5 separate regions of the Homo sapiens genome follow, and all the other regions are linked to region 3. The links come from fine-mapping of genetic effects on gene expression. A gene starts in region 3. Each other region holds a variant in brackets. All regions are shown on one strand. Distances are from middle to middle.

What was found. PIP is the estimated chance that this variant, and not a neighbour inherited with it, causes the effect.
Region 1: its variant is fine-mapped to the expression of MPZL1 in whole blood (Lepik 2017, PIP 0.95).
Region 2: its variant is fine-mapped to the expression of MPZL1 in unexposed skin (GTEx, PIP above 0.99). The same link has a PIP of 0.9 or more in fibroblasts.
Region 4: its variant is fine-mapped to the expression of MPZL1 in blood mononuclear cells (TOPMed, PIP above 0.99). The same link has a PIP of 0.9 or more in T cells, monocytes and monocytes after interferon gamma.
Region 5: its variant is fine-mapped to the expression of MPZL1 in whole blood (INTERVAL, PIP above 0.99).

The regions. Positions count from the first base shown.
Region 1 is chr1:167,741,768-167,748,193 of GRCh38, forward strand. The region is part of intron 1 of MPZL1 (myelin protein zero like 1); the gene reads left to right. Among named protein-coding and RNA genes, the nearest start is that of MPZL1, 23 kb to the left of the region's middle. The variant C/T (reference allele first, on the strand shown) is at 2,841.
Region 2 is chr1:167,774,994-167,781,419 of GRCh38, forward strand. It overlaps MPZL1 (myelin protein zero like 1), which reads left to right. Exons shown (of 6, transcript NM_003953.6): 5 at 1,071-1,173. Among named protein-coding and RNA genes, the nearest start is that of MPZL1, 56 kb to the left of the region's middle. The variant T/TA (reference allele first, on the strand shown) is at 3,431.
Region 3 is chr1:167,719,224-167,725,649 of GRCh38, forward strand. MPZL1 (myelin protein zero like 1) reads left to right here and starts at 2,759. Exons shown (of 6, transcript NM_003953.6): 1 at 2,759-3,019. The coding sequence starts at 2,929. RefSeq lists enhancers at 361-860, 3,087-3,587 and silencers at 2,399-2,768, 3,159-3,228, 3,259-3,398.
Region 4 is chr1:167,787,280-167,793,705 of GRCh38, forward strand. MPZL1 (myelin protein zero like 1) reads left to right here. Exons shown (of 6, transcript NM_003953.6): 6 at 541-4,640. The coding sequence ends at 642. Among named protein-coding and RNA genes, the nearest start is that of MPZL1, 69 kb to the left of the region's middle. RefSeq lists a silencer at 5,304-5,452. The variant C/G (reference allele first, on the strand shown) is at 2,903.
Region 5 is chr1:167,767,635-167,774,060 of GRCh38, forward strand. MPZL1 (myelin protein zero like 1) reads left to right here. Exons shown (of 6, transcript NM_003953.6): 3 at 4,641-4,854; 4 at 5,602-5,734. Among named protein-coding and RNA genes, the nearest start is that of MPZL1, 49 kb to the left of the region's middle. RefSeq lists enhancers at 2,366-2,937, 3,872-4,373. The variant T/C (reference allele first, on the strand shown) is at 2,484.

The DNA of each region.
Region 1 (6,426 bases), 23 kb after region 3:
CATGCCGATAATCCCAGCACTTTGGGAGGTCAAGGCAGGAGGATCACTTGAGCTCAGCAGTTCAAGACCGGCCTGGGCAACATGGTGAAACCCTGTCTCTACAAAAAATATAAAAGTTAGCTGGGCCTGATGGCTCACACCTGTAGTCCCAGCTACTCAGGAGGCTGAAGTGGGAAGATTGCTTGCACCTGGGAGGTTGAGGGTGAAGTGAGCCATGATCATGCCACTGCACTCCAGCCTGGGTGACAAAGTGAGACCCTGCCCCCAGAAAAAAACCCTTGTTGGGAGGTCAAGGCAAGTGTATCACCTGAGGTCAGGAGTTTGAGACCAGCCTGGCCAACATGGCAAAACCCCGTCTCTACTAAAAATAGAAAAATTAGCCAGGCGTGGTGGCCCTCACCTGTAGTCCCAGCTACTCGGGAGGTTGAGGCAGGAGAATCACTTTAACCTGGGAGGCGGAGGTTGCAGTGAGCAGAGATCATGCCACTGCACTTCAGCCTGGGTGACAGAGCAAGACAAAAAAAAGAAAAAAAAATCTTTGATCTTATCAAATTGTTCTTGTTTTCCATAATATCAAAAACCCGGCATATAAATATATAACAAGTATAAGAGTGTATCGCCTAACTATATTATGGGCAGATACCTTAATAGTATCTTTCAAATAAAAAAGATACTTGCCAACTTTTAAAATAAATATATATGGAGTGCCTGAGGGAATTTCTTAAGGAGTCCATAGTCTATCATCAGTCTACCATAATCAGAATAGGAACTATAGTTTATTTTGGAATGGATTGTGAAGATTTTCTCTCACTCTGTGGGTTGTCTGTTTACTCTGCTGACTGTTCCTTTTGCCACACAAAAGCTCTTTAGTTTAAGTCCCAGCTATTTATCTTTGTTTTTGTTGCATTTGCTTTTGGGTCTTGGTCATGAAGTCTTTGCGTAAGCTAATGTCTAGAAGGGTTTTTCCAATGTTCTCTTCTAGAATTTTTATAGTTTCAGGTCTTAGATTTAAGTCCTTGATCTATCTTGAGTTGATTTTTGTATAAGGTGAGAGATGAGGATCCAGTTTCATTCTCCTACATGTGGCTAGCCAATTATCCCAGCACCAGTTGTTGAATAGGGTGTCCTTTCCCCACTTGATGTTTTTGTTTGCTTTGTCAATGATCAGTAGGCTGTAAGTATTTGGGTTTATTTTTGGGTTCTCTATTTTGTTCCTTTGGTCTATGTGCCTATTTTTATTACAGTACCAGGCTGCTTTGATGACTGTGGCCTTATAGTATGGTTTGAAATCAGGTAATGTGATGTCTCCAGATTGTATGCAGGCTCTTTTTTGGTTCCATATGAATTTTAGGATTGTTTTTTCTAGTTCTGTGAAAACTGATGGTGGTATTTTGATGGGAATTGCGTTGAATTTGTAGATTACTTTTGGCAGTATCATCATTTTCACTTTTTTTTTTTCTTCGAGACAGAGTCTCGCTCTGTCGCCAGGCTGGATTGCAATGGCGTGATCTTGCCTGACTGCAACCTCTGCCTCCTGGGTTCAAGCAATTCTCCTGCCTCAGCCTCCCAAGTAGCTGGGACTACAGGCGCACATCACGCCCAGCTAATTTTTGTATTTTTAGTAGAGACGGGGTTTCACCATGTTAGCCAGGCTGGTCTCGATCTCTTGACCTCGTGACCCTCCCGCCTCGGCCTCCCAAAGTACTGAGATTACAGGCGTGAGCCACCGCGCCTGGCCTTCGCAATATTAATTCTTCCTATCCGTGAGCATGGGATGTGTTTCCTTTTGTTTATGTCATCTGTGATTTCTTTCAGCAGTGTTCTGTAGTTTTCCTTGTAGAAGTGTTTCACCTCCTTGGTTAGGTATATTCCTAAGTATTTTGTTTTACTTTTTTTGCAGCTATTGTAGAAGGGGTTGAGTTCTTGATTTGATTCTCAGCTTGGTTGCTGTTGGTGTATAGAAGAGCTACTGATTTGTTTACATTAATTTTGCATCTGGAAACTGCTGAATTCTTTTATCAGTTCTGGGAGCTTTCTGGAGGAGTCTTTAGGGTTTTCTAGGTAAACAGTCTTATCATCAGCAAACAACAACAGTTTGACTTCCTCTTTACTGATTTGGATGCCCTTTATTTCTTTCTCTTGTCTGATTTCTCGGGCTAGGACTTCCAATACTTTGTTGAAGAGAAGTGGTAAGAGTGGGCATCTTTGTCCTATTCCAGTTCTCAGAGGGACTGCTTTCAACTTTTCCCTATTCATTATTATGTTGGCTGTGGGTTTGTCATAGATGGCTTTTATTACATTGAGGTATGTAATGGACAGGCATTCTAAGCCCTTTACAAATATTAACTCATTTCATTCTTGTAATAACTCTTTGAAGTCGGTACTATTAGAATAAACTTAAAAGTATGAGAAACTGAGGCATGGAGGGCTTTTTGCACAAGGTCCCACATCACTCTTTCTTGTCTCGGGTAACCCTGTGATTCACATAGTTGCAGACCACATAGTCACACCGGAAGTTTTTCAGGAAACCTTTCTAGACATCTTGTTAAAAACTTACAAAGGGGACAACTTTTGATGTGTAAAACAATTAGGAAGCATGTCCAGAGTCTAAGTGTTCTTTAAAAACCAAAAAAAGGCCGGGCACAGTGGCTCATGCCTGTAATCCCAGCACTTTGGGAGGCCAAGACGGGTGGATCACCTGAGGTCAGGAGTTTGAGACCAGCCTGGCCAACATGGCAAACCCCTGTCTCTACTAAAAATACAAAAATTAGTGGGCCATGGTCGTGTGCGTCTATAATCCCAGCTACTTGGGAGGCTGAGGCAGGAGAAACACTTGAACC[C/T]GGGGGTCAGAGGTTGCAGTGAGCCGAGATCGCACCACTTCACTCCAGCCTGGGCGAAAGAGCGAAACTCAGTCTCAAAAAAAAAAAAAAAAAGAACCTCCAAATAGCAGTTTGCCCATTTTCTCCTTCCAAGTTCACATATAGACCTTAATAAAAGTTATAGACTCCAACAACTAGTAAATATTTTTTTCCACTTGTTTCGTTAAATTTATTTCCATTAAATTGGGAGTAAGATCAAAACAGAATAATGTTTACTGTCATCAGTTTAAGAATAAATGTTGTGCTTACTCCGCAGAGGCGGATGGATCCACTACTTCTCCCCCCACTGCAAAATTTGGTTAAGATGTGGAAACTGATGATACCATATGTGCACCAGGACGGTACGAAAAGGGTTTATGACTCACTTACTGAGGCTTTTTGGGGAGAGCAGGGCAGGCTTCCCATGCAGGTACAAGAATGGCTTGAGAAAGCAGGAAAAGGATACTGGCTCTCCTTTTATGGTGATAAGTTGCTGAGTCTGGAGTGAAGGTCCTTATATGCCCCTTCAGCCAGGTCTTGGTTTGAACTTCCCACCTGTTCCAAAGGATGGCTCACTTGGGCTTTCTTATTAGCTTGCCCTGAGGAAAGGGGTACAGCTTGAAAGCTCTTGGCAGTCAAATATCAAAAATGATGTCAGACTCTTTATTACAAATATATTTTTAAGTGCTTGTCATTGTTTATGTTATGGGGCAAAAATCTTGCATTGTACTAAACACCATGTCACTAATAGTGTGAATAGAAGATTCAGCAGACTAATGTCAAGAATGTTTTTGGAACCTTGAACACAGGGAATATCCTGTGTGTCTTTTAAAAACACGGAAAATACTTAACATCTCTATTTTGTTTGGGTTAACACTGATGATGCTGAAATGTTGGGTATTGATTGCCTGGGTCACTATGGGCAAAGAAGCTTTTTTTGTTTTTGTTTAGTTTTATGATATTACTGATTTCTGTGTTTTGTCATATTCTTTTTGTATTTTATTAAACATGTTTTTAATAAATGGGCACTCTTATTTTCAAACTTAATAAATAGGACTCATTTTACTATGCATATCCTGGGTTTTAAATTCTGAGCTAAGAAACAAGAGATAGAAGAACCAAATTTGGGTAAAATTCAGAGTCTTAGATGCCAGAAGCCAGGGAGACGCTGGAAAACAATTATTGAGATGTGTTATAGGTTAACTGATAGTTGGAAGACAACATGCCTTTCAGGTTTGTGGTTTACTGCCTTTCATTAATTCTGACACAGTTTTTAATATTTTAATATCTCTGATATTGGGATATGCCTTACAATTGTTGGCGAGTCATAGCCAGCATTTTTATTTCTTGGGGACACAGAAAATAATGTGTCTTACCCTCAGTGGTGTCTTCAATTACATGAACTATGACAATTTTTACACCTTTATAAGTCTTTTAAAATAAAAAATTCATTTATACTTCAGAAAAAATACCTATGATTAGACCACGAGTTAGGGGAGACTTTGCAGTGGTGATTGCCTTGGAGTTGCCTTGAAGGAAGAGTGGGAGTTGGCCCAACGGGAGTGGGTTGGTGGAGAAGGCATTCAGACTGAGAGATAGCATATACAGCATATTATAAAGAGTGTGCTGTGTTGGGGAAAGGGCTAGAAGTTTGATGTGGCAAAAATGTAGGCTCTGGGATGAGATGAGAATGATAAACTGGCTGGAATGGTAACCTGGAGCCAGCCTTTGAAAGGCTCTGTGTGCCGTGCGAGGGAGTTGAGGCTGTCTTGGCATGTTAGGCAGCATTGTAAAGCAGCTCTCCCTCCCTGTTTGCATCAGCAAAGGGGTGGGCAGCATTGGCACCAATAACAGAAGAGTGAAGACAATACATATGTCGAATAAGATCTCTAGCACAGAGTTCTCCAAAATGGAAAGGGCTGCACCCTGGAATCAGATGGAAGGGAGAACTTTACCAAGGGGGTGCTATTTCCTTCTGCTCTGTTGTGAATGGAGTTGGGGTTCAGTGGCCTGTTTTAGAAGCCTGTTTGTGGGCAAGCTGTGTGACAAAGTTGTTGAAAAATGAGGAATGGCTTTCAGAGGGCAGTATTAATCCATTTGGATGGAAATTTAGGAGTGGAACATGTGTTTCTAAGCTGTTTTTGGCTTTTTCCTAAGGGCTATATATTCTTAAATTAAAGGTGATTTATCATTCTTAGTTTCCTCTAAAATATAACTTTTTGTAGAGGGAGGCTTTATCACAAAATTTAAGAAAAAATAAGTTTGTTATTCTTGCTGTGGTTTTATTTTTATAAGAAATTTGGGAATTTGATCCTTCATAGCAGAAATTTGTTCAGTTTGGGTCTCCAAACAAGAGACACAGAAAATTTGTTCATCAGAGAGCCACTGAGATATATAGAGAGTTAGAAGATCAGTCAGGAAACATTAATGGAACCGGAATTATACAATAGAGGAAGAAAACTGCAAATATTTCTGTTGTTTCAGCCTAATTTTAACACTCATTACCATTTGCAGCCCATAAGCGAATTGTTTTGCATAGAGCCTGCATTGCTAAGCCAGTAGAAGGAACTAGTCTTTTAAAAACATTTTCTAATTTCATTCCCTTTTATTTTTGAGACAGGGCCTCACTCTGTCGTCTAGGCCGGAGTGCAGTGGTGCGATCTCAGCTCACAGCAGCCTCAACTATCCAGGCTCAGGCAGTCTTCCCATCTCAGTCTCTCAAATAACTGGGATTTACAGCATGAGCCACCATGCCTGGCAAATTTTTAAAAAATGTTTTGTAGAAACAGGGGTCTCACTATGTTGCCCAGGCTGGTCTAGAACTCCTAGGCTCAAGTGATCCTCCTGCCTCAGCCTCCCGAAGTGCTGAATGAACCACCACACCAGGTCTTTTATTTCACGTTTAAATAAAAATGTTAGATAGTAGTATGTTGACATAGTTCAAAAGTTAAAAAAGAATACATGATAAAAAGTCTTCCTCCTAGTCCCCTGTCCCTTTGCTGAGGAACTCAGTGTTAGTATCCTGTGTATGGTTCCAGAGATATTTTATGGAGATGTGAGCAAATCTATAAGTGATAGCATCTCATACACATGGTTCTACAGCTGCTTTTTTTTTTAACAGAAGTTTTACTGTGATATAATTCACATACTGTGGAATTCACCCATTTCAGTTGGGATTCAGTGGTTTTTCAGTGTATTCACAGTGTGTTGCAGCCGTCATTACTTATATAATATTAGAACACTTTCATCACCCCATAAAGAAACCTTATATCCATTAGGGCTTAGTCCCTCTTCCCCTAGCAACTACTAATCTACTTTCTGTATTAGAAATTTTATATGGATAGAATCAGATAATATGGGGCCTTTTCTGTCTGGCATCTTTCACTTAGCATAACATTTTCAGTTTTCATTCATGATGTAGCATGTATCAATATTTCATTTCTTTTTATAGCCATAATATTCCATTGTATGAATATACCACATTTTGTTTATCTGTTCATAAGATGAGGGACATGTTTTTCTCTTGTGTATATACTTAGGATTGCTATTGCTGAGTCATCATAACTCT
Region 2 (6,426 bases), 56 kb after region 3:
ACATGTTGAGCATACTATCTGGATGAAATTGGATTGTGAAGTTACATAGAGTTTTTATGCACATCTGAATATTTGTGCTCTTCATGTAAAATGCCATTGTGTATGTGTGTGTGTGCATTAGTTTTCTTTTTTCATATATGTATTATGTTATCAATATTTAAGATCCTGACTGATTATGTATTAGAATAATTAAACCATTTTGGTTCAGAGCATGTAGCCTCCCATTTCACAGAAGGAACAGTTTGCAGAATGCATGGTATGCTTTGGTCTTAGTAATGACACTTTAAATGTGATTCTCCCCAAACTCCTAAGTTTTAAAAGTATATATCAAAAGGCTTTAAGCTGTACTGATGACACATCTCATTGGAAAATCCCTACGCTGTACCCCAGCTTTCTTACTTCCTGGCATTCACTTTCCCTGATTCATTTATGAGATAGTGCTTGTTGTTAAAGACTACTGTCACCGTGAAAAGGTTCAGCCTGTGTGACCTGGCATTCCCTAATTTCTCATTCATGACTTCCTGAGTTTTTGGGGGGATTTGATTGTGGTATTGGTAGGGAATAAAAATATGGAGAGAACAAGATAAGCCAAGACTTGCCTGGATATATATCTGTAATTTAAAACATACATTCAGAAGAGGTTTGCCTTTGATTATAACAAAAGTGAATTGCCATTAAGCTAATAAAAGGTACCATAGAGCTTGTTCCCTTAAACCTTTATCCCAAAGGAGGGTTGATGGCAGGGGGAAAAGACAAACAGCAAAAGGATAAATGTGTATTGTAACTAGAATTCCAATATGATTTTTGTAAACTGGGTTGAAGAGGTTGTACCATATTTGTTTCTGTGCCTCCCCCAGTGATGAGTTCATTGACTTAGAAGAATGAGTGAGTGTCAGGTATAGAAAATAGTTTAAAAACATGTGATCATTTTGACACCCATTGTTATGTTGTCTTTTGTTTTTATATATCTGTTGCTTCATCTTGCCGTCAGTTGCATTTCTATATTTTTGTTTCTATTTATTTATTATTATTATTTTTTACATTTGTTCTTCAAATTGCCAATTCATCAGCTGCAGTACATCAGAGAGTTTGTCACCAGTTAAGCAGGCTCCTCGGAAGTCCCCCTCCGACACTGAGGGTCTTGTAAAGAGTCTGCCTTCTGGATCTCACCAGGTAATGGCTGATTGCGATTCTGCCCACTGCACTGTTCCCTACAGCTTGGTGCTCTGTCACTTCCTTGGGTGTGGAAAAGAATACTGAGCTATGAGAGACAGAGACAGAGACAGACAGACAGAGACAAAGAGAGAGTGGGAGTGAGGAATTAAAGGGCTGGCCTAGGAAGACCACAGGAAAATATGTGGTGAAGAATCTGCTTGAGTAAAGATTTCCATGAAACCACCAATAACATAAATTGTTTACTAACCATGTAGCTTCCTTGCCTCAAGCAGAATTAGGAAATGGCTTTGTCAGTAAAAGATTCTTTAATTGCCCAAGGAAATGAATCTAATGAAGGAGATTCTTTCTGTATTGAGGTACTCTAAGATAAGAAATTAGCAAGGAAAAGTTGGTATTCTTAGTATTGATAATAAAACCAAAATTATTTTCTGTGGATTCTTTAGAAAAAATGGAAAGTAAGCATTTATCTGAATAATTAATAGGCTTGATGAACAAGGAATGGTTTTGGTTTCTACTTGTAGAAAGTACAGAAGAGAAACAGGTTTTATTTGGAAGTTAGCATATAATCTAGCTTTGTGTGTTTTGGCTGTAGTATTTTAATTATAACTGTGGCTTGGCAAAAATTCCATAGCTTAGTTCAGTTTGATTTTTCTGGGGTAGAAAGCATGCTAAAGAATTTGGCCAGTTATAGCTTTGTCCTAAAAAGGTGTTAGCTGGTGGGAATGGATTTAAGAGGAAATAAAGAGAGTAACAGTGTTTTGTGGGAAAAGTACCCATAGTCTTATTCCATAGTTGTTATATGTGGTGAGGAAACTAAGGCATTGTGATGTTAAATTACTAAAAGCACACACCCAGTTAGTGACAGAACTGGGGCTAGAACCCAGGTGTCTAGATAGCATGTTCTCTACCACAGCATCAGGCTCATTACTTGTTCCTGTTCTATCTGTCTGTCTCTCTCTCACATTACATAATATATGTCAGATACCTCAGTCTACTAATTTGGGTTGTGAACAGGAATATGGTTGTAAATGAAGACATGAAAGTTACATACACATAGGCATAGCATCTAAAAAAGCATTGGAACATTTTTATTCCGCCCTTGAAGCACTATGGAAGTTGCTTTTTTGCTGAAAACAAACCAGAAAAAAGAAAAAGAAACTGTGGTTTTCAAGACAGTGGAACACAAATTATGCAGCACTGTCATCCCCAAAAGAAAGGAAACAGACAATGTGAGCCGTGTTATTGCCCCAGTGTACTGCCTTGAAGCAGTTTCCACACTGCAGTGTAGGTGGGGAAAATGGAAACTGGGCCCAGCTGTCTCACTCAATTGAGAAGGCGGAAATCAGAATTTGGGGAGGTCAAGGAGGCTAAGATTTATGAGGCTGAGTACCAAAGAAGGAACCATAGAGAGAGCGTGCTAGGATGAGCACGAGCACTTCAGAGATTTGGAGCGGGGTCCCCTTGAGTCTTTGTCTGATTACAGAGTTGTATACACATAGGAGAACACTCTCTGAAACCAGGGGAAGAACTACCTGAAATGCAGTAGGTTGCACAATGCCTGGTGCTCACACAGGTGAGGGACTAGTTTGTGTTCCTAAGAGCCAGAGTAGAGAGACTTATAATACACAGGGTATTGGTTGGGGTTCTCAAAATGGTCATACCTAAATGGGTTAAATTAGTACCAGAATAAAGGATGCTATGGACCCACCATAACAAAGCTTAAAAGGAAGCCTTTAAAGAATCAAACTAATCCAAAAGTAATTTAGTTGCATTTTACAACAAAATCCAACACGCTTTATGCTACAACAAAATTCATCACCCAACAATGTACAATTTACAATGTCTGGCACCAATCAAAAACTACCAGGCATGGCCTGGTGCGGTGGCTCACGCCTGTAATCCCAGCACTTAGGGAGGCCAAGGCGGGTGGATCACGAGGTCAGGAGTTCGAGACCAACTTGACCAACATGGTGAAACCCTATCTCTACTAAAAATACAAAAATTAGCCAGGTGTGGTGGTGCACACCTGTAATCCCAGCTACTCAGGAGGCTGAGGCAGGAGAATCACTTGAACCTGGGAGGCAGAGGTTGCAGTAAGCCGAGATCACACCACTGGCACTCCAGCCTGGGTGACAGAGTGAGACTCCATCTCAAAAAAAAAAAAACAACTATCAGGCATAAAAAGAAACCAAAAAATAAAACACATAAGCCAGATATAGTGGTGTGTACCTGTAGTCCCAGCTACTTGAAAGCC[T/TA]AAGTGGGAGGATTGCTTGAGCCCAAGAGTGTAAGACCAGCCTGGGCAATATAGTGAGACCCTATCTCAAATAAATAGATGGGTGGAAAGAAGGAAGGAAGGATGGATGGATGGATGGATGGATGGATGGATGGATGGATGGATAGATTTAAAAAAATAATAATTTAATAATTAATTACAATAAAAAATCAGGAGAAATCAATCAGAAACAAATTCAGAATGGATGGAAATGATGGGATTCATAAACAAAGACCTTAAAATGAGTATTATCAATCTTATTAGTAAACTTAAAGATGTAAAGGAAAGCTTGAACCCAATGAGGAAAGAAATAGATATCTAAAACAGACCAAAATGGAACTTCTGGAAATAAAAAAAAATTGGATGGTGTTAACAACAGATTAGATACTGCAAAAAAAAAAGGTCAATCAACTTGAAGACATAGCAATAGAAACTATCCAAAATGAAGCTCAAAGAGAAAGACAGATGGCGGGGTGAAAGTGAACAGAGCCTAACACGGTGAAAACCCATCTCTACTAAAAATACAAAAAATTAGTTGGGCATGGTGGCACGTGCCTGTAGTCCCAGTTACTCAGGAGGCTGAGGCAAGAAAATCACTTGAACCTGGGAGGCAGAGGTTGCAGTGAGCTGAGATCATGCCACTGTACTCCAGCCTGGGCAACAGAGCGAGACTCTGTCTCAAAAAAGAAAAAAAGAAAAAAAAGAAAGTGAACAGAGCTTCAGTGAGCCACCGGACAATATCAAGCAATCTAATTAGAATCCGAGAAGAAAAAGGGAGAGAAAAAAATATGTAAAGAAATAGTGAAATTTTTAGTAAATTTAATGAAAAACATAAACACACAGAAAGCAATAGCGAAAATTGCTGGGCGCAGTGACTCAACGCCTGTAATCCTAGCACTTTGGGAGGCTGAGGTGGGTGGATCACCTGAGGTCAGGAGTTCGAAACCAGCCTGGCCAACGTGGCAAAACCCCATCTCTCCTAAAAATACAAAGATTAGTTGGGCATGGTGGCAGGCGCCTGTAATCCCAGCTACTTGGGAGGCCAAGACAGGAGAATTGCTTAAACCACAGAAGCGGACATTGCAGTGAGCCAAGATCGCGCCACTGCACTCCAGCCTGGGCAACAGAGTGAGACTCCATCTCAAAAAAAAAAAAATTGACTCTTTACAGCAAAAATAATGACAGCATTTTATGAGGCTATAACATGTGGAAGTAAAATGTATGACAACAGTAGTACAAAGGATGGGGTGGAAGGATGGAAGAATACTGTTGTAAGGTCCTTATATTATCCATGAAATTATAATTTGAAGGTAGACTGTGGTAAGTTAAAGATATATGCTGCAAATTCTAGAGCAAACACTGAAAAAAATAAAAGAGATAGATACAGCTAACAAGCTCTATCTCCGAATGGCAATACTGATAAGAACAAAATTCTGACATATGCTACAACATGGAAAATGGTAAATGCGGATGGTAATAATATCAACGTTGGCATCAGAACAAGAAATAGAACCAGAGATAGAGGGACTTTTTATGATGATAAAGCGATCTACTTACAAAGAAGACATAATCCTAAATGTTTATACTTGTAATAGTAGAGCTTGAAAATAAGTAAAACTGAGAGAATTGGAAGGAAAAATTGACGTATTTACAATCATAGTTGGAGGTTTCAACAAGAAACTTTAATGTAATCATTTCAAAATACTCAGTTAATCCAAAAGTGAGCAGGAAAGGAGGGGAAAATGAGCAAAGGGTAGATGGGGCAAATAGAACACAAATAATGAAGTGGTAGATTTAAACTCAACCAGACTGATGATTGTATTACTATAAATGGGCTGAGTGTGCCAATAAAAGGTGGAGATGGACAAATTGGATAGAAAAGCAAGAACCAATCATATGCTGTCTGCAATAAACCACTTTAAATAAAAAGATCCAGGTAGGTTAAAAATATTAATACAAGGATGAAATTGAAAGCAGAGTCTTGAAGAGATATTTGTACATCCATGTTCATAGCAGTATTATTCACAAGAGCCAAAATACAGAAGCAACCCAAGAGTCCATCAGTATACAAGTGGATAAATAGAATGTGGTATATATATACACAATGGAATATTATTCTGTCTTTAAAAGGAAAGAAATTCTGACACATGCTACAACATGGATGAATCTTGAAGATATGCCAAGTGAAATAAGCCAGCCACAGAAAGACATACTATGTGATTCTACTAATATCCCATACCCTACAGTGGTCCAGTTCATAGAGACAGAAAGTAGAGTGGTAGTTGTTGGGGAAGGAAGAATAGGGAGTTGTTTAATTGGTACAGTTTCAGTTTTTGCAGGATGAAAATATCGTAGAGATTGGTTGCACAAGGATGTAAATGCACTTAACACTACTAAGCTGTACACTTTAAAATGGTAAAGATGCTAATTTTTATGTTATATATATTTTACCACATTTTTTAAACAGTAAAAGGATGGAAATGATATGCTACATTAACACTAATCAAGAGAAATCTGGGTGGTAATAATATCAGAATAGGCTTCAGAACAAGAAATAGAACCAGGGATAAAGACAGACTTTTTATGATGACAAAGTGATCTACTCATGAAGAAGACATAATCCTAAATATTTATACTTCTAATAATAGAGCTTGAAAGTAAGTGAAGTAAAACTAAGAGAATTGAAAGGAGAAATTGACATATTCACAATCATAGTTGGAGGTTTCAACACTCCTTTCTCAGCAGTTGGTAGAACAGGTTTACAGAAAATCAAAAAAGATGCGGAAGACTTAACAGTGAAACCAGTTTGAGCTAATAGACATTTATAAAACACTCCTTCCATCAAGCGCAGAATTCTTACTCTTTTTAAGTACACATGAAAATTAACCAAATATAGACCATATTCTGGTTCATAAAACAATTCTCATTAAATTTAAAAGGGTTGGAATCATATAGAGTACGTTCTCTGGCCACAATGG
Region 3 (6,426 bases):
GGACTCTTTTTCTCTTGATTATACTTCTCATCCAATTTATACCCAGTCCTGTAATTCTTTTCGTGAAATGTCTCTCAAATCCTGTCTTCTCATCCCCACTATCAATACCTTATTTCCTGCTCTCTTCATTCTTGCCCTGCTGCAGTGGTTACCTTTTTAAAACACAGATCCGAACTTCTTACACCCCTTTCACCACTCTCCACTGCCTCCAGAAAAAACACAACTCAAGGCTCTTCAAAATATGACCGCAGCCTCCTTTCCTGGCATTCTCTCTTCCCCTCTTTCCCTCACTCCCCTCAAGTTGCAAACCACAAAGGATTCACCTAATGTTTCTCACACTTGGTAGGTGATTTCTTTTCTCTGAATGTGCTTTTCCTGTTTTCTCCGTTCTCTGAGTTTGCTTTTCCTGTTTTCTCTCTGGTGAATTATTCATCTTTTAAAGTTCACCTTAAATGTTTTATCCTTGGTGAATCTTTCTAGATGCTTCTTGGGCCAGTGGATTTTAGGAGAGCGAGGTATATGTGGCTGAGGTACATCACAATCAGCAGAGAAGCTTTAAACACTGCTGAGAGTCACTGTCCCTGCTGGCCTTGGGTTTCTTCTTTATTCACTCTTCCTTTTTTTGAGACGGAGTCTCGCCCTGTCGCCCAGGCTGGAGTGCAATGGCGCGTGATCTCGTCTCACTGCAACCTCTGCCTCCCAGGTTCTGTAGCAGGATGAGCCGCAGACAAAACTCCTCAGACACGGAGTTAAAGAAGGAAGGGGTTTATTCGGCCGGAAGTATCGGCAAGCCTCCTGTCTCAAGAGCCTAGCTCCCCGAGTGAGCAATTCCTGTCCCTTTTAAGGGCTCACAACTCTAAGGGGGTCCGCGTGAGAGGGTCATGATCAATTGAGCAAGCAGAGGGTACTGTGAATGGGGGCTGCATGCACCGGTAATCAGAACGAAACAGAACAGGACAGGGATTTTTACAATGCCTTTCCATATAATGTCTGGAATCCATAGATAACATAACCGGTTAGGTCAGGGGTCGATCTTTAACTACCGGGCTTAGGTCAGGCAGGCCCAGGCCTGGTTTCGGGTCTGGTTCTTAGGCGCCGGGTTACCTGCCTTTAATTTCGCTTCTCTTTCCTTTTCTGAGTATAAAACTATATGAGAGGTTCTGTCTCTCTTCTCTCAGTTCAAGCGATTCTCCTGCCTCAGCCACCCGAGTAGCTGGGTACAGTCACGCGCCACCCATGCCCGGCTAATTTTTTTGTATCTTTTAGTAGAGATGGGGTTTCACTACGCTGGCCAGGCTGGTCTCAAACTCCTGACCTCGTGATCTGCCCGCCTCGGCCTCCCGAAGTGCTGGGATTACAAGTGTGAGCCACCGCACCCGGCCCTCATTTTTACAAATGTAATTGAGTACTTGTTTGTGTACACTAGTAGACGATGTGCTTCTTGAGAGTAAAGCCCAGGTGTTCTACATCCATGGTTCAATTAATGCATTGGTATCTTTTCCAACCTATGGCATTTGAGATACAACTTCAAAAGGATCTGCTGACAGAAATAGGGCAAAGTGGTTCTGGTATTTTTTTTTTTTAAGTTTTTTTCTCACTAATGTTCTTATGATTTCGCTGTACTGCAATGTTAGCTGAAACAGCACAGATATCAGGAATGGCATTGTTAAGACTGACCTTAGACAAAAACCCTGAAGTGAGAGGTTACATTTTGGGTTCTCACCATACTCTTCCCCCGCTCTTGTCCTAATTGTCTAAAGCTTGCTTCCCTTCCTCATCGTATCAGCCTCCCACCTGAATCTTCCCTTTTCCTCCTTCACACTCATCTTTCTTGTGCCCCTGTCCCCCATTTTTCCCTTTTGTAAGCCATTTTCATAAGGATCCTTCCAAATATTTCCCCTATTGATTGGACAACCCGTAGGTGGCAGACTGTTCTGGGCCAAGGCAACCAAGTTGAGCAGGGCCAGCAATCAGTGTCGGGAACTTCTGCAGGGCACTTCAGAATCAGTGTTGGGAACTTCTGCTTTCTATTTTTCACGGACACAGACAGGAACACAGATATGCGAAAGCAAAACAATCAAAAAGCATTTTCATTTGTTTTTCAGGTAGTAGGAAAGAGTTCCAGATTCCCATCCTTCTGAAGCCAGGAGGGAGGTTCCTAAGAGGAGGTTAGGGCAAGATGGAGACTTCTTTTTAAACTAGTAGATTTCGCAAATTGCAACACATACATTATCTAGTCCACGCAAAGGACAGGCCTTGGGGACACGGCACGGGGAACGTGTTCCACCTGGACGACTGAATCAGAAGTCTCTCCCCCATCAATTGAACGCCTCATTATTTTTCTTTCTGTCTTTTCTTTCTTTTTAAGGTAAATGAATTGCTTCTTTTTCGTTAGGTGAGGCCGGCAGAGAACAAGAAGAGCTGAAACGGAGGCGAGGTTAGTACCCAGCAAAGACCTGTGGCGAGGAGAGACAATGAAGAGGACCACGGGACTGGACCCTGAGAAAGGCAGAGGAGACGCTGGCTGGTGGGGCCCGCAGGCGGACAGCCACGCAGGCAGGCGGAAGGCTCGGCTCGGCCTGGGACCGCTGCAGACCCGGCCTCCGCGCGGGGCCGAGGCGCCTGGGTGGGACCGAGGAGGCGGGGCCTTCCCGGCGGACGGATGATGGACAGCCTGACTCTCCAATCGCGTCCTTAAAAGGGTGCGGGCAGGCCAATGAGCGGACAGCGAGGGCCGGAGTGGGGCTGAGGCTTCGGTGCAGAGCTGGAGAGCCGCGGCTGGGACCGGAGTGGGGAGCGCGGCGTGGAGGTGCCACCCGGCGCGGGTGGCGGAGAGATCAGAAGCCTCTTCCCCAAGCCGAGCCAACCTCAGCGGGGACCCGGGCTCAGGGACGCGGCGGCGGCGGCGGCGACTGCAGTGGCTGGACGATGGCAGCGTCCGCCGGAGCCGGGGCGGTGATTGCAGCCCCAGACAGCCGGCGCTGGCTGTGGTCGGTGCTGGCGGCGGCGCTTGGGCTCTGTAAGTGATGCCAGGACCAGGGCTGGGGCCGGGGAGTGGGGCCCCCGGGCCCGACACACGCCCATCGCGGCGGTCGCAGGCCAGGCGCGCGCACTGAGAGCCGAGGTGGGGAGGGGGCGCGGCCTGCGCTCTCTGGGGCCGAGGGGACCCAGCCCATGGGGAACGCGGGCCTCCGCGACTGGCCGGGAAGGCGCAGAGCCTCTTTCTTCTCTTTCCTGGATCCTGGAGTGCGGAGGAGGAGGGGAGAGTGCTTTACCTTGCTCCTTCCCGGGGGGCGGTCCAGGGGAGCGGACCCGGCGGGCGGCTGCGGTGAGCCCTCGCGGCGCACCCTGCCCTCTCCTCGTGGTGACTCTGGATCGTCTAGGCCCTCCCGGATTCTGACTCAGGAACTAGGGTTCTGGCGTTCTTCACCTTTGGGAGGTGGCGGAAAGTTGCAGGTTTTTCATTTGTAGGGCCTTTGTTGATTTGTTTCCTGTTAAGCCAGGGTTTTGTTGTAAGTTCCCTTTCCCATGCTCTCATTCAGTTTTAAGTCTCCGTAATAAAAGAGTCTCATTTCCGTGGTCTGCAAAACGCCAATAAAAAAATATTGTTACTTCTAGGTTAGAATGCAAAGAGCTTGGAATACCAGTGAGATGGCCTGGCTTAAAAGAATTTGGTCAAATCCATCATAATTCCAGACGTAGCCACCATAATTTGACAAGACATAGAGCATTAAAAAGCATAATTTTCCTAAAGGAAAAAAAAAGCTCCTTTTTCTTACCAAATATTGTGACTCAAGCTTAAGGTAAACCTCGGGCTCAATTTATGGGAATTGGATGACTTGTTTTATGGACATCTGAAGTGGTATCTGCCACAGGACTTTTCTGTGTTGTTGTTCAAAGCAAAGTACTTGTTGCTGTCTCCGAATTTAGTTAAATAATAGTTATAAAGAGGGCCAGCTGCTAAGAAACCACGTAGATTTTTTTCATTCCCTTTGTTTTCAAAATGTCAGTTATGATTTAGCATCACAGTATCTGAATACCAGAGTTTACTCAGTAATTTCTTTCTTCATGGAAAAGTTCTTAATATAATCCTTGGATCAGGGAAACTAGGTGAAGTTCTGTTGGATCACCAACTGTTCCACTTAAACAGTGATTCCAGGGGCTGTAAAGCATAAATGTAAAAGTCTCCCTACCCTCCAGGGGTTGACAGATGATGACACACTTTGTGTAAGACACAATCCATTCTGTATTTTGTCTTAGAAAAAAAGGTTAAAAGTGTGTTTGTTGGTGGTGGTATTTGTGTTTAATCAAACAAGTAGAAAATAGCCTAAAATTAAGGTTTATCAGAAATATGCTTCAGACAGAATTGTTATGCATGAGAGGTCAGACATTGCTATGGAGGACAAAGCAGTTAGGGTGATCTTAATTAAAATCAGGGTATTAAACGTAGAAGGAGTGCAAAACTACATAGTAGTGAAAAGATCACTAGAGTAATAGCCCCATACAACTTGGACGTAACTCTTCAGTAATGAAGATGAATGTTGATATGTAAAAATCAGCAGCTGATGTTATTGGTTCAACTTAGAAAATTATTGAATCTAAAATTCTTGCCAAATCACCTCTTTTCTGGTCATGGATACTGCACATAAGAGTTTATCTTTTACAGGATAGCTTCTAAAGTTTTATCAAGACAGTTACTCAGCAAACATTCACTGAGCACCTTTTAAGTGCTTAACACTTAAAAGGTGGGAGGTTAGGTCTCACTGTGTTGCCCAGGCTGCTCTGGAACTGAAACTCCTGGGCTCCAGTGATTCCTCTGCCTTTTCCTCGCAAGCAGCTGGGGCTACAGGTGTGTGCCACTGTGTAGGGTCAGAAGCACATTGGTAAAGATGTACTGTGGGAGCTTGAAGGAGGGTCATTATCTCAGACTGTAGTTCAGGCTACTGGAGGAAGGGAGTTTAAACTGGGTAGGCATGGGGGAGGGGCAGAAGTACATACAGAGTTATGAATGAACCTGTTGGTAGTTCAGTATAGTGGGAGGTTGGAGTGTATATAAGGGGAATGGTGGGAGTTGAGGCAGGAGAGCCTGCCAAGGGCACCAGCTTACAAAGGGCCTTGTCTGCCACACTTAATCCAATGAGGATTTCTCTGTCTATTGAGATGTGAAGGATGGGTTAGAGTGGGGTGAGGCTGAAGCCAGAGAAGGCAGAGGACTATTGTAATAATCCCGGGGAGGATGATGAAGATCTGAATTCAAGCATTGGGCTATGAAGAGAGGACACATGTTGATGCGCCACTTAGAAAGTACGTTTGATAGAGCTTGGAAACATTGATGCAGGCTTGAAAGAGGAGGTGGATAAAATGATCATAGGTTTTGGGCTTGGGAAGCTGGGCATATTTTTGGCCTTTTCACAGATGGGGAAATAGGAGTCTTGGGGGAAGAAGATGATGGAGATACTTTTGAATATGTTGAGTTTGAGATGCGGGTAAGACATCCAAATGGAGATGGGCAGAAAACAATTGGATAGACAGTTCTGGAGGTGAGGAGAAAGTTCTGGTTGGAAATGGAGATTTAGAGAGTTATGTGGCTAATAGTTAAAGCTTGGATTGTTTGGATGAGGGCATCCAGGGAAAATGCACTGAAGAACATAGCAGAGAGCCAAAGACGGAGTTTTGGGGTATATGAAACCTGACAAAGAGTCTCTGTGAGTAAGAGAAAAACCAGGTGAGTTTGGTATTTCAGCATTGTCAGATGAAGAGAGATAAAATGTGATAAGAATTCACTGAATTTGGTAATTGAAATGAGCACATAGTATATGAGGACTAAATCTCAGTAATTTGTACCATCCATGTCAGTAAATGGAACCTCCATACATCTAATTGTGCAGGCCAGAAACCTAGGGTCCATCCCTGATTCTTCCCTGTCCTTCACATCCAATCAGTTCTCCCATCTTTAAAATGCATCTGGAATTGATGTTTTTTCTACCTCCACTCCTAGCCTTTTAGTCAAAGTCACCACCATTTCTTGCCTATATTACTGTGATAGCCTCCCAGCTGCTCTTCCTCTTTTTCCCCCTCTGGAGTCTTGCTCTGTCTCGCCCAGGCTGGAATGCAGTGGCACAATCTCGGCTTACTGCAACCTCCATCTCCCAGATTCAAGTGATTCTTCTTGTGCCTCAGCATCCCAAGTAGCTGGGACTACAGGCATGCACCACCATGCCTGGCTAATTTTTGATTTTTCTATTTATTTTTAAATTTATTTTATTTATTTATTTTTTGGGGGATGGAGTCTCGCACTGTTGCCCAGGCTGGAGTGCAGTAGCGTGATCTCGGCTCACCACAACCTCCACCTCCCTGGTTCAAGCGATTCTCCTGCCTTAGCCTCCCGAGTAGCTGGGACTACAGGCGCATGCCACCATGCCCAGC
Region 4 (6,426 bases), 68 kb after region 3:
TGAAGAATATTTGAAGTGCTTTTAAACTATTTGTTTAAAACTATACCTATTTGTATAACGTGACCAGATCAAATTGATTGTATCTTTGGGTGGCACCAAATATGTTGGTTTCTTGCATGGATTGATTATTCTGAAGCTCATGATTTCTGTGGGTCTCAGGTGCGTGGAAGTTCCCATCTTAGTCCTTAAGACTCTTACCCCAATTGTAAGAGCTGAGGAATTCTGTGATAGCTATTAAGATAAGAGATATTCCTAAGAAGGAATATATTATTACAGAAATTTTCAAACATCAAAAAGGTTTGAAAGAATAATGTAACAAAGCCCCATGTACTTGCTTTAACTATTGTCAACGTATGTCCAATCTTGTTTCAAAGTCAGTCCTGGATGTATCATCCATAAGAAGTCTTCCTGAAGACATTCAAGAGGGAAGTCTTTGCTTTGGAACCCTGATGTGATCACGTTAATCATTGCTTCTATGCCTGTAGCTGAAGGAACCGCCAGCGTTTTCAGTCCTCTAATCCTTCTGCTTCCCTTTTCCAGGGCCCAGTCATATATGCACAGTTAGACCACTCCGGCGGACATCACAGTGACAAGATTAACAAGTCAGAGTCTGTGGTGTATGCGGATATCCGAAAGAATTAAGAGAATACCTAGAACATATCCTCAGCAAGAAACAAAACCAAACTGGACTCTCGTGCAGAAAATGTAGCCCATTACCACATGTAGCCTTGGAGACCCAGGCAAGGACAAGTACACGTGTACTCACAGAGGGAGAGAAAGATGTGTACAAAGGATATGTATAAATATTCTATTTAGTCATCCTGATATGAGGAGCCAGTGTTGCATGATGAAAAGATGGTATGATTCTACATATGTACCCATTGTCTTGCTGTTTTTGTACTTTCTTTTCAGGTCATTTACAATTGGGAGATTTCAGAAACATTCCTTTCACCATCATTTAGAAATGGTTTGCCTTAATGGAGACAATAGCAGATCCTGTAGTATTTCCAGTAGACATGGCCTTTTAATCTAAGGGCTTAAGACTGATTAGTCTTAGCATTTACTGTAGTTGGAGGATGGAGATGCTATGATGGAAGCATACCCAGGGTGGCCTTTAGCACAGTATCAGTACCATTTATTTGTCTGCCGCTTTTAAAAAATACCCATTGGCTATGCCACTTGAAAACAATTTGAGAAGTTTTTTTGAAGTTTTTCTCACTAAAATATGGGGCAATTGTTAGCCTTACATGTTGTGTAGACTTACTTTAAGTTTGCACCCTTGAAATGTGTCATATCAATTTCTGGATTCATAATAGCAAGATTAGCAAAGGATAAATGCCGAAGGTCACTTCATTCTGGACACAGTTGGATCAATACTGATTAAGTAGAAAATCCAAGCTTTGCTTGAGAACTTTTGTAACGTGGAGAGTAAAAAGTATCGGTTTTATTCTTTGCTGATGTCCTTTCTGCTTGAAATAACAGTCACCATACAGCTAAAGGAGAGGAGTTTCTTTCCTTCTAAGTAGGCAGAAATGGTATCATTATGTTGCCGCTCTCCAATCTCCCAGAGCTCGCTCTCTAGAGAATCACCTTCTTTCGCTTTTTTTTTTTTTTTTGAGGTAGAGTCTCACTATGTTGCCCAGACTAGCCTTGAACTCTTGGGCTCAAGTGATTCTCCCTCCTCAGCCTCCCGAGTAGCTGGAACGAACTATAGTTGCACCACTGCAGCTGGCAAGAATCACCTTCTTTATAAAGCGTCAGTCATGCTTCCAGCAAGAGGCAGCATCAGTCATGGCTTTATAACAGCTTCATGGTGCCTCAAAGACTGTTGAGGTTAATGAGAGCCTAGATTAGACAGTTTGGCTGTCCTTCCCTAAAACTTGTTTTCTCCTATTCACTACTCCCCACCGCACTTAAAATCTATGAGTTTTTACTTTTTACTGGGAATGGAAAGTGTGGTGAAGATCATTCAACACTTATGTTGTCATTTCTCCCATTTTCTGAATTTTTTTTTAAATTTCCCCCCTTTTAAAATTGTTCGAAAGCCCACAGTTATGGAAAGAATTACTGTCTAGATGGTCTGCAGAACGTGTTTGGGGTGAGTGGGAGTGAGGGGCAATGTTACTTTTTCTCCCTGTAGTTTGGAGTCCATTATGAGCTGCTGCTTTTTCTTCTCATCTTGTCATCTTCTGGGGATGTTTGAAGGCTGAGTTCCAACAGAATTCACAAAGGGAATAAAACAGGATTGAGATTTTGAGGTGTGCACAAGGTGGTAAGATAAAGGGCATATGAGCTTCAAAACTAATGCTGTTGCATACATGAAGCCTTTTGTTTTTTGAGGAGCTATTTTTGTTATTCTTGTAACGCTCCACCTTACATGCCACATCTGTGTGAGTCAACAGGGATCAGGTTTGGTCACCACACATGTCTGAAGCTGGGCAGCGTCTGCTCTGTGTTCTGTGTGGAATGGAGAAAAAAACGCCTGCCCTGCTGCCTTCCATGTTCATAGGCCCAGCCCAAGAGAGTGACACACAGTGCTGGCCCTGAGACATTTCCACAAAGTGGTCAACTCTGCCTTGCATCCTAAAACTTTTTGGGCATCTATTTTGAAAACTATAGGAGCCTTTGGAAGGCCTCTTATGTTTGGAGGGGAAGGGTGTTGAGATTGTCACCATCCTTCAAGCTGAGACTCCTGGTGAGCCTTTGCCACCATGAAAACCACATAGCTGACCAGGGCTGTGCTTGAGGTACAGAGGACACACATTGTAGACAGGCCTGTGTCATGTTTCCTTACAGTCGTTTTTTACAGAGAAAAGGGGCATTGTTTTTTCACTGCTTTCTCAACAGTTCCTGTGAATAAATGAAACATTTCGGAGCTCCCTGAGAGCAAGAGCCTTCACTT[C/G]TTCTTGCGGTGCCGGGACCATGTGTTGGTGAAGCTGGTGCTGTGGGGGCCACTCACTCGAATGACACCTGGAGGCCTGTTCCTCCCTTACCACTCCCTTCCCCAGCCCGACTTCTTGGCCTCCTGCCCAACCAGACACCTCAAACTCTGTCAGTGCCCTGGCATTCTGGCAGAGAATCCTCACCAGTTCTCACCAACCTTCCCCCCAGGCAAGGGCAGCTGCCAGCATGGTGCTCTGCCAGGACAGGTTTCCCTGAAGGAAGCTGCTCACACTGAGATGAGCCTCTCAGGGCAGGACCTCTTCCCAAGCCCTGCACACCCACCCCTGCAGCCCTTTTGGCTCCCCTTTTCCCTGTGCCTCAGCACTCCTTTCCTGGTTGCAGATAACGAACTAAGGTTGCCTAAAGGGCAGATCTGCCCTCTCCATGTCTTCGTCCTGGCAAACAGGGTCGTCTTAAAATTATGCGCTAATTCTGTATGGGAGCACTCAAAAGGCATTACTTAGAGATTGAAATTTCAAACTATCTCTAGTTTTTCAATGGAAATATATCAGCTAGGGAAAAACCATCAAGCTCATTATTATTTTTTGATCTTCAGTTGTATTTTTGTGAATATTTTAATACATCTTTTTCAATTTCTGAATTGTGTTGTGTGCTCATTTTGACCAGAATAGAAAAAGAGATATGCCTTTCACTCATATCATTCCAGCTACACCTGCCTTCTTTTCTTCAAAAATGCCGTCCGTGTGCCTGCTTCTGGGCCTTTGCACATGCTGTTCCCTGGGCCTGAAGCATGCCTTCTGCCAATATTCCTGTGGTTTGCTCTCTGACTTCCTTTAAGCCTCTGCTCAAATGTTACCTCCTCAGGGAGACCTTCTGTGATATATAAAAGAGCAAGCCCCCCACCCCACCGCCTCAGCCTTCCTGGCCCCCTCAGTTCTGCTCTAGTTACTCTATTTCTCTCCCTCTTTCCCAGTACACACTTGTCTGTTCTCCCGCATTAGAACATAGTTAACAAGAGACCAGAACCTTGCTGTTTTGTTCACTGCTCCGTCTGCAGTAAAGGGAACAGCACCTGGCACTTAGCTGCTCAATACATGTTACGTGGATGGATGAGTAGGTGGAAGCATTCATCCATTCAGCAACCTACACTGAGAACAATCCTGTGCCAAGCACTGTGCTAAGCATAAGGAAACAAAACAAGACAAAGCTCCTCAAGGAGCTTGCCACAGGGTGGAGGTGACAGGTGACATGAATGGAAGTAACTAGTAGTTACCAAATACTTGGTGTGAGCCAGGCACTTTGCATTTCTTTCTCTATTATTTCTGTGAGTTAACAGTAATTGTACTAATCTTAATCCCATTGTTTGAAAGATTATATGGCTTACCCAGGGCCACTTAGCTAATAAAGGAACAGAGAAGAGGGGCTGGGCCTGGGGCCGCTGTTTGATCCACAGCCTTGTTCCTAACCACTATGCCCTGTGGCCTCTCACACCAAAAGGAAGTACCAAACTGCTTCCTTACTCAAATAAATGTGCTGAAATGCAGTTGCAGTTTTCTCCCAGTCCCTTAGGAGCTGGTTAGAGAGTCCCTTAGGAACTTGAGAGGGTAGTGTAGTCTAGGTGGTAGGCACAGATGTCTGAGAGCTTTAACCTCAGTCTGGAAGACAATGTGGTGACTTAATTTGTTGAGAACTATGTTACAAATAATGTGTTACTAATAAAACATTGAGGCTTCGCAGTGACTTAGTAATTTTATAAATTACCATGGATTCACAATGAGCCCCTGCCTTGCATAACTTTGGGCTTGCAAAACCTAATGCGTTCTTGAGTGGGAGAAGATGAGTTACAGCTGGCAGGAACTCCCCTGGGAGTAATTCTCACATGTGAACAGCATCCATCTTGCGTGATGTGACAAAAAGAAAAGGGATGCTTCCTTCACCACACAAGGGCAGCAGTGAGTGATGGAATCACATTTTTGTCATCTCTGCAATTCCTTCCAAGTCAGCACTAAGTGTCGGAGGGCATCCACCTGCTGGGGCTCTGGTTTCCAAGCTACATAGGGGCCTTGCCAACCAAAGATGGACTTTTTATTTATGAGAGCAGCTTCCACCCCTGAGGGAGCTGAGTTGAGCAGTGTTTAGAGGAAACTCAGATACTCTCTCACCCCAGTTGGCTCCCTTCTGACCCCTCTGGGTAGTTCCTGTGCTAACTGGACTGGGGAACCACTGACTTCATCCTCCCACTGTGCAGGAAAGGCGAGGGAGCAGCCACGGGGAGGAAAGTGGCATCTGTGGTATTGGTAGAGCTGGTGGTAGGAGCCAACCATCTGCTTTTATGGCGGGTTCTCCCCTGCACTTTCCTCTTGCATAGTCAAGATATTGTATGAACAATTTCAATATATTTTGTTTTTTTGTAGAATTACTTTAATGAAATTACCCTTTGATATAATTTGAAAAAAATTTTTTTTTGAGACAGTCTTGCTCTGTCATCCAGGCTGGAGTGCAGTGGCATGATCTTGCCTCACTGCAACCTCCACCTCCTAGGTTCCAGCGATTCTCCCACCTCAGCCTCCCCAGTAGCTGGCATTACAGGCACGCGCCACCACACCCGGCTAATTTTTTGTATTTTTAGTAGAGATGCCCGCCTCAGTCTCCCAAAATGCTGGGATTACCGGTGTGAGCCACTAGGCCCAGCCCCTTTGACATAATTCTATCAGCCTACATTGAAGTATGTCATAAAAAAGAGTCCTAGGAAACTAGCTACTTATTGTACTTTACTGCCAGCATGGCTTTGAGAACGTTATTCCCTGTCATACATTTTTCAATGTTATAAAGACCCACAGCACAAATATCTCTCTGGATTTAATACCAGATGATATGGTTGAGATCTGTGTCGCAGCCTAAATCTGTCGAATTGTGATACCCAGCATTGGAGGTGAGGCCTGGTGGGAGGTGATTGGATCACAGTGGGTAGATTTCTAATGAATGGTTTAGCACCGTCCTCCTTGGTACTGTTCTCGTGATTGTGAGTTCTCATGGGACCTGTTTGTTTAAAAGTATGCAGCACCCTCCCACTCTGCTCTCTCGCTCCTCCTCCCGCCACGTGAGACGCCTCATGAGAAGCCTCACTACCCCTTTGCCTTCCGCCATATTTGGAAGCTTTCTGGGGCCTCACCAGAAGCCAAAGACGCTATGCTTCCTGTGTAACCTGCAGAACGGTGAGCCAATTAAACCTCTTTTCTTCATAAATTACCCAGTCTTGGGGTTTTGTTTTTGTTTGTTTTTTGTTTGTTTGTTTGTTTTTTGAGATGGAGTCTCACTCTGTCGCCCAGGCTGGAGTGTAGTAGCACGATCTCGGCTCACTGCAACCTCCACCTCCTGGGTTCAAGCGATTCCCCTGCCTCAGCCTCCTGGGTAGCTGGGATTACAGGCATGCGCCACCATTCCCGGCTAATTTTTTTTTGTATTGTAGCGGAGATAGGGTTTCACCATGTTGGCCAGGCTGGTCTCGAACTCCTGACCTCA
Region 5 (6,426 bases), 48 kb after region 3:
GGGTTGCTTTTTTGTTTTTATAGGTTTTACAGGAAAAGTATATTCAAACCCAGTATATTCAAAAGCCATACTGTGGATGGCTTTTTTGGCCCATGGCCTTGGGATCCACATGTCTGAAACTGAACTCATTTTTTCTCCCTTCTGTTTCCCTTTTCTGCTTTTTTTTTTTTTTTTTTTTTTTAGGTTAATTGTGTTCATCTGCAGATGAGTTTTGTAATCATTTTGTTTTGTTTTGTTTTGTTTTGTTTTGTTTTGTTTTGTGTTTTCTGTCCTTTCCTTCCCTGTCCCTTACCACTTCCCTTCTGCCCCCAAGAAATAAGAACCTTTGCTGGTTCTTCCTACTTTGTTTCTGGTGTCTAGCTTTTTGTCAGCCTTCCTGTGTCTCTGCTGTCTATTGAGCAATGTTAACTGTGTGCCTGGTCTTGTGCAGTAGCCCCTTGTTATTCTTCTGCTTCTGTTTTTCTCATCTTTCAATCCAACCCTCATATGCCAGCAGGTGCATAGTCTTAGAACAGCTCTTTCACCTTGCCACTGCAGGTTATCAGGAACCTAGATTCCCATTGTGGACAACATTTGTCTAGAATTAAAAGCTCATTACAATTTGGCCCAGCCTACCACTTTAGCCTCACTTCTGTTCTCTTATGGCATCACTTCCAGTTTAGTAAAAATGCTTTGTGCTTTGTTTTCCTACTTCTGAACACTTGTCATTTAAGCTGTACCCCATTTTTACCCTCTGTCTCCTCCATAATGCCTCTTTTTTTTTTTTTAACCTTTTAGCCCTTAAAACTCACTACCCTTATCTGGGCCATTCCTATAATACAGATCCCTTAATATGACAGTTTTCCTCTTCTTCCTGAATATGGGTGTTTTAAGAGGACTTGCCTGTCTTACATCTTTAGTATACCTCATAGCTTTAGCACCATGGCTTGTACTTTAAAAATATTGATTGATAATGATTCTAGTCTTTTCTGTGAATTTTTCACTGTTTTATTTCCATCTCTCACTGGTTTGACCAAGACGTTATTCCTCAGTTTGATTCAGCAAACTATGTAGTTCCTGCTGTGTCCAAAGTGCTAAGGAGTACAGAGATAAATACATCTTATCCTCTGCCTTCAAATGGCCCCCATTCAATGAGGGAGCCTGACTGAGGGAGCTGTCTCAGACCCAGTGCTGAGAAACAGCATCATGTAGCTCATCCCCGCTGGTTCAGAAATGCAAGGCAGGGAATATGTGGAGATGTTGTGGGAAGGGAAGGCAGAGAGCAGGTGATGGAAGGATTCATTTGCAAAGCTGAGAGTTTATGGTTCATTTTCTAGTGAAGAAGAGAGAGTGAAGAACTTTGAACAGATAAGACATGATCTCACCTGAGAGGCCTTAAACATTGGAAATAGCATAAGCTTTGAAATCAGAGCTGAGTTTGAATTCCATCTCTAAAACCTGTGACTTTGGGAAAGTCACCAAGGTTTCCTGAGCCTCACATTCCCTATTTATGAAATATCAGGTAGGCGAATCTCACCTTGCAGGGTGGTTGTGAGGGCTAGAGAGTTGTTGGGAGACAGTTTTCTATGGGTCTTTCACGTTTTTGCACACCTTGCTAGCAAAGGCACTGGCTGCCTTTGTTCTGGACTTTTTTTATACAGTAACTAGCTTTGGAAGGCAGAGATGATGTTACCCTCTGGAGCAAAGGACAAATTTGTGTATTCTTGAGTATAGTAAAGGTAGTGTCTCCTTTCAGGGCTGAAGTCAGACATGTCTTCTGCCCCTTGTAAGAGAATAGTGTTCCCTGAGCTTGGGGTTCCTCGGCTGTGATGCAACGCCTCTGCCTGCACAACATCCATGTGAGCCCCTCCATGTCATGGCTATGGGACTTGCGGGGCAAGAGAAACAAACACATGCTTTCTGCTCATAAGGTTCTTTGTTTCTGAGTCTTCTTCATGGGAGTGAAGATTTCACAGGAGTCCGTGTCTTCTGTCAGCACCTATGAACCTGTGGCCAACTAACTTTGTTAGCTTGTAAGTAGGGTAAAATCTCAGACCCTTCACGGTTCTTAACAAGCATTTAGGTCATATGAAATGCAGGGTAAATATTTGATAAATGTTATAATAATAACCATTATTCTTTATCAGTGATCATTTAGGCATTGTGGAAGATGATGAGTTAGACATACCAGTTAAGAGGCCATAGTCCAAGATGATGAAAACATAAAAACAGATATTGTCAGTGGGAACCGAATAGAGAGAAGAGAGAACTGAGAGAAACTAATGAGACATTGACAATATTGGGGGATTAACTGGATAGGAAGAAAGAGAATCAAGGATGACTTCAAGATTTATGGTTTTGGAAAGAAACAGTAGCCATCAGTGAAGACACGATACATGAAGAGGGGAAGATGAAGTTTGTAAGAGAGGGTGACAAGCTTGGGGGAGAGGGGCAGCCAGGTGGTAAAGTGAGTAGGCAAGGAGTCTAGAGCTTAGGGGACGCTA[T/C]TGATGGAGAGAGAGGTTTGGGAGTTAAGAAAATCTAGATGATCATTAAATCATAGGAATGGATGAGTCTGCACTGGGGTTTTCACCGTGCTCAAAGGGTTCTGAAAATGTTCTGTTTGAATTGCTAATAGAGCTGGTTTCTATCCCCAGCTCCACCATCACCCCGTCCATTAACCAGAACAAAGACATCAGGCCTCCAGCATAGCTGCTTGGATTAGAGCCAAGTGTGAGGATAGATCCCCTCCCACTGGGCCTTAACCCTGCTTCCAGGTGCTGAGTTTGACAAGGTTTACTTTGAGAAGACAGTTCCTTTGCTGAAAGCAGGACTGAGGAGAGACTGAGGAGTGGAAAGAGAAAGGGGCTAAAGGCTGAACTTTCAAAAGCCGGCAAGAGTATCTTGTGTTATCTGGGCTTTGTTCCTTTCACACACCCATGACTTTTCCATAGGAAACCAGAAGGAAGAGGGCGAAACTCAGATTAGCTGATCTGAGATATTTAGGATTCTTCTCCTTTGTGCTTCTGTGTATCTTAGTGGTAAGCTAACTCAACACTAAGCTTTCTGAAGCCTTGGGAATCACTGGGCTCAATCATGGTGTTACTGGAAGAACATTGGCTTTGAAGACTCAGATGGGCCTAAATTTTACTCTGGGTCCCCAATTTACTATCATTGGTACCTTGGGAAAATGGCTTCTCTTAAGTCTCCATTTTGTCTTTTATAAAATTATGGGTGGTAATAATTATATCAATGAAATATTGAGAGGATTAGAGGTGATATATGAGTCTGATTCTTCCATTGAAACCTGGCAGGGTTGAGTGCCGTGATCTCTAAACTTCTGTCTGGCTTAGATTCCATAACTTGTGATTTGTAATATGATGTTGCATTTCTTTTTTTTTTTTTTTTTAATTGATCATTCTTGGGTGTTTCTCGGAGAGGGGGATGTGGCAGGGTCATAGGATAATAGTGGAGAGAAGGTCAACACGTGAACAAAGGTCTCTGGTTTTCCTAGGCAGAGGTCCCTGCGGCCTTCCGCAGTGTTTGTGTCCCTGGGTACTTGAGATTAGGGAGTGGTGATGACTCTTAACGAGTATGCTGCCTTCAAGCATCTGTTTAACAAAGCACATCTTGCACCGCCCTTAATCCATTTCACCCTGAGTTGACACAGCACATGTTTCAGAGAGCATGGGGTTGGGGGTAAGGTTTATAGATTAACAGCATCCCAAGGCAGAAGAATTTTTCTTAGTACAGAACAAAATGGAGTCTCCTATGTCTACTTCTTTCTACACAGACACAGTAACAATCTGATCTCTCTTTCTTTTCCCCACATTTCCCCCTTTTCTTTTTGACAAAACCGCCATCGTCATCATGGCCCGTTCTCAATGGTCGCTGTCTCTTCGGAGCTGTTGGGTACACGTGCAGAAAGGCTGTCACTTCACACTTGGAAGATTGCACAGCGGCCAGGCAGAGGCGCTCCTCACTTCCCAGACGGGGTGGTGGCCGGGCAGAGGCGCTCCTCACTTCCCAGACAGGGTGGCCGGGCAGAGGGGCTCCTCACATCCCAGAGGATGGGCGGCCAGGCAGAGACGCTCCTCACTTCCTAGATGGGGTGGCAGCTGGGCAGAGGCTGTAATCTTAGTACTTTGGGAGACCAAGGCAGGTGGCTGGGAGGTGGAGGTTGCAGCGAGCCGAGATCACACCACTGCACTCCAGCCTGGGCAGCATTGAGCATTGAGTGAGCAAGACTCCATCTGCAAACCCAGCACCTTGGGAGGCTGAGGCAGGCAGAACACTCCAGGTCAGGAGCTGGAGGCCAGCCCGGTCAACACGGCAAAACCCCTCTCCACCAAAAATACAAAAACCAGTCAGGCGTGGCCGCACGTGCCTGCAATCCCAGGCAGTCGGCAGCCCGAGGCAGGAGAATCACAGGAGCCCGAGGCAGGGAGGTTGCAGCGAGCCAAGATCACGGCAGTACAGTCCAGCCTCAGCAACAGAGGGAGACCGAAAAAAGGAGGAGAGAGAGGGGGAGAGGGAGAGGGAGAGAGATGTTGCATTTCTTTCCGTATGAAGTCTTTAAAAGAACCTTTCATAGCATGCACATTACAGAGTTTAGGAATTCTGCCTTTGAGAATAGTTCATGTGTTCCTTTTTTCTAATTGCAGTTTTTCCACTACTCCCAAGGGCAAGTGTACCTTGGGAATTATCCACCATTTAAAGACAGAATCAGCTGGGCTGGAGACCTTGACAAGAAAGATGCATCAATCAACATAGAAAATATGCAGTTTATACACAATGGCACCTATATCTGTGATGTCAAAAACCCTCCTGACATCGTTGTCCAGCCTGGACACATTAGGCTCTATGTCGTAGAAAAAGGTACTTCCTTGAGTATTTTGGCAGTAATAATGCAGTCTCCTTTATCTCATGTTTGGTTGGAAAACATGAGTTGCATTTCATGGTGGGTTTGGAGGGAGGATTTTTGCCATACAGTTGTGCTCCCTGTTGCCACGAACCTGTGGCTCTACCAAACACACTTGGAGCTGGGAAACTTGTTGCTCATTCTGACCCAGAGTGGCTGATTTCTCCATTTTTATTCCTACCGTCTGGTGCCTATTGGTCTAATTTCAGGAGTATGAATTTTTCAGTGTTAATTAGAAGAAAGACCAAATTCATTATGTTTGGATGTGATGGGCAGTGGGAAAGAAGGAGATTCATACTGTTTTATATTCTCCAGGAGAAAGCTTTCAACAACAGCACAGTTATTTCTTCCTTTTGATTTTGAGAACAAACAGGAAATGCAGGTTCTGGTGTCTCATTTTTGAGACAAAGTCTGTTTTGTTGGAGAGTAGATCCAGGTAAATTCACACCTCCGGTTTTTCTTTAGAGCACTGAGAGGGATTGTAGGTGTAGAAATGCTTAGTTCCATAGTTCATTCTTTCTCATCTAATATTCACATGTCATGAATTACATAGTAATAGGATAGATAGTAGGATCTCATAGTTTGGATAATAAAAGAGGGTACGGTAACTGCTAAATGAAGATACTTGCTCGTTAATTTAATAAAATTCCATGTTTTCTCTCTGTAGCAATGTACCTTAAAACTATTTTGTTCTTTCTCTCTAGAGAATTTGCCTGTGTTTCCAGTTTGGGTAGTGGTGGGCATAGTTACTGCTGTGGTCCTAGGTCTCACTCTGCTCATCAGCATGATTCTGGCTGTCCTCTATAGAAGGAAAAACTCTAAACGGGATTACACTGGGTAAGAAACACTGTTTTTTTAGGGCAGGGGTGGAGGGAGGGAATCAGGGTTTATAGAAACTTCTGTATTTAATGAAAAAAGGATTTTAAAGAATTAACTACTATTTTCTTTCATGTCAGAATCAGGCAGTCTCCTTAGGAGGTGTTCTAACATGGGCAAGTGGAAATCAGTGGGCCTGCTATTAAATGTGGAATATGATTCTAATCTCTGTTCCAGTTTCCTTCTTAGGTTTGGTGAGATGAGCTGCTCAGCAGTCTGTGCTCTGTGTTTCAATACCATCCACTATGCAATTAGTATTCTTAAGACATCACTTACCCAATTTAAGAGTTTAATTTCAATTTCTTGCTAATAAACTCACAAGGTGGTTCTTTCCAGTTAGGAAATATAAAACCCTAATTAAGAAGTTGTGAGCTGGAATTAGTGGCATGTGCCTGTAAGTCCCAGCTACTTAGGCTGTGGCAGGAGGATTGCTTGAGCCGAGGCGTTTGAATCTAGCCTAGGCAACATAGCAAGATCCTGTCTCTTTAAAAAAAAAAAAAAAGAAAGAAAGAAAGAAGAAGAAAAAGCAGTGGTTTTAATAAACTACCTCCCCCAGCCCAGTGTGATGATGGTGCAGGGCTTTTCCTTTTTGTAGTTCCCCTACCCCACTCCAAGCTTAAGTAGCTTTATTGCTTTGATCATTCTTAGCTAGA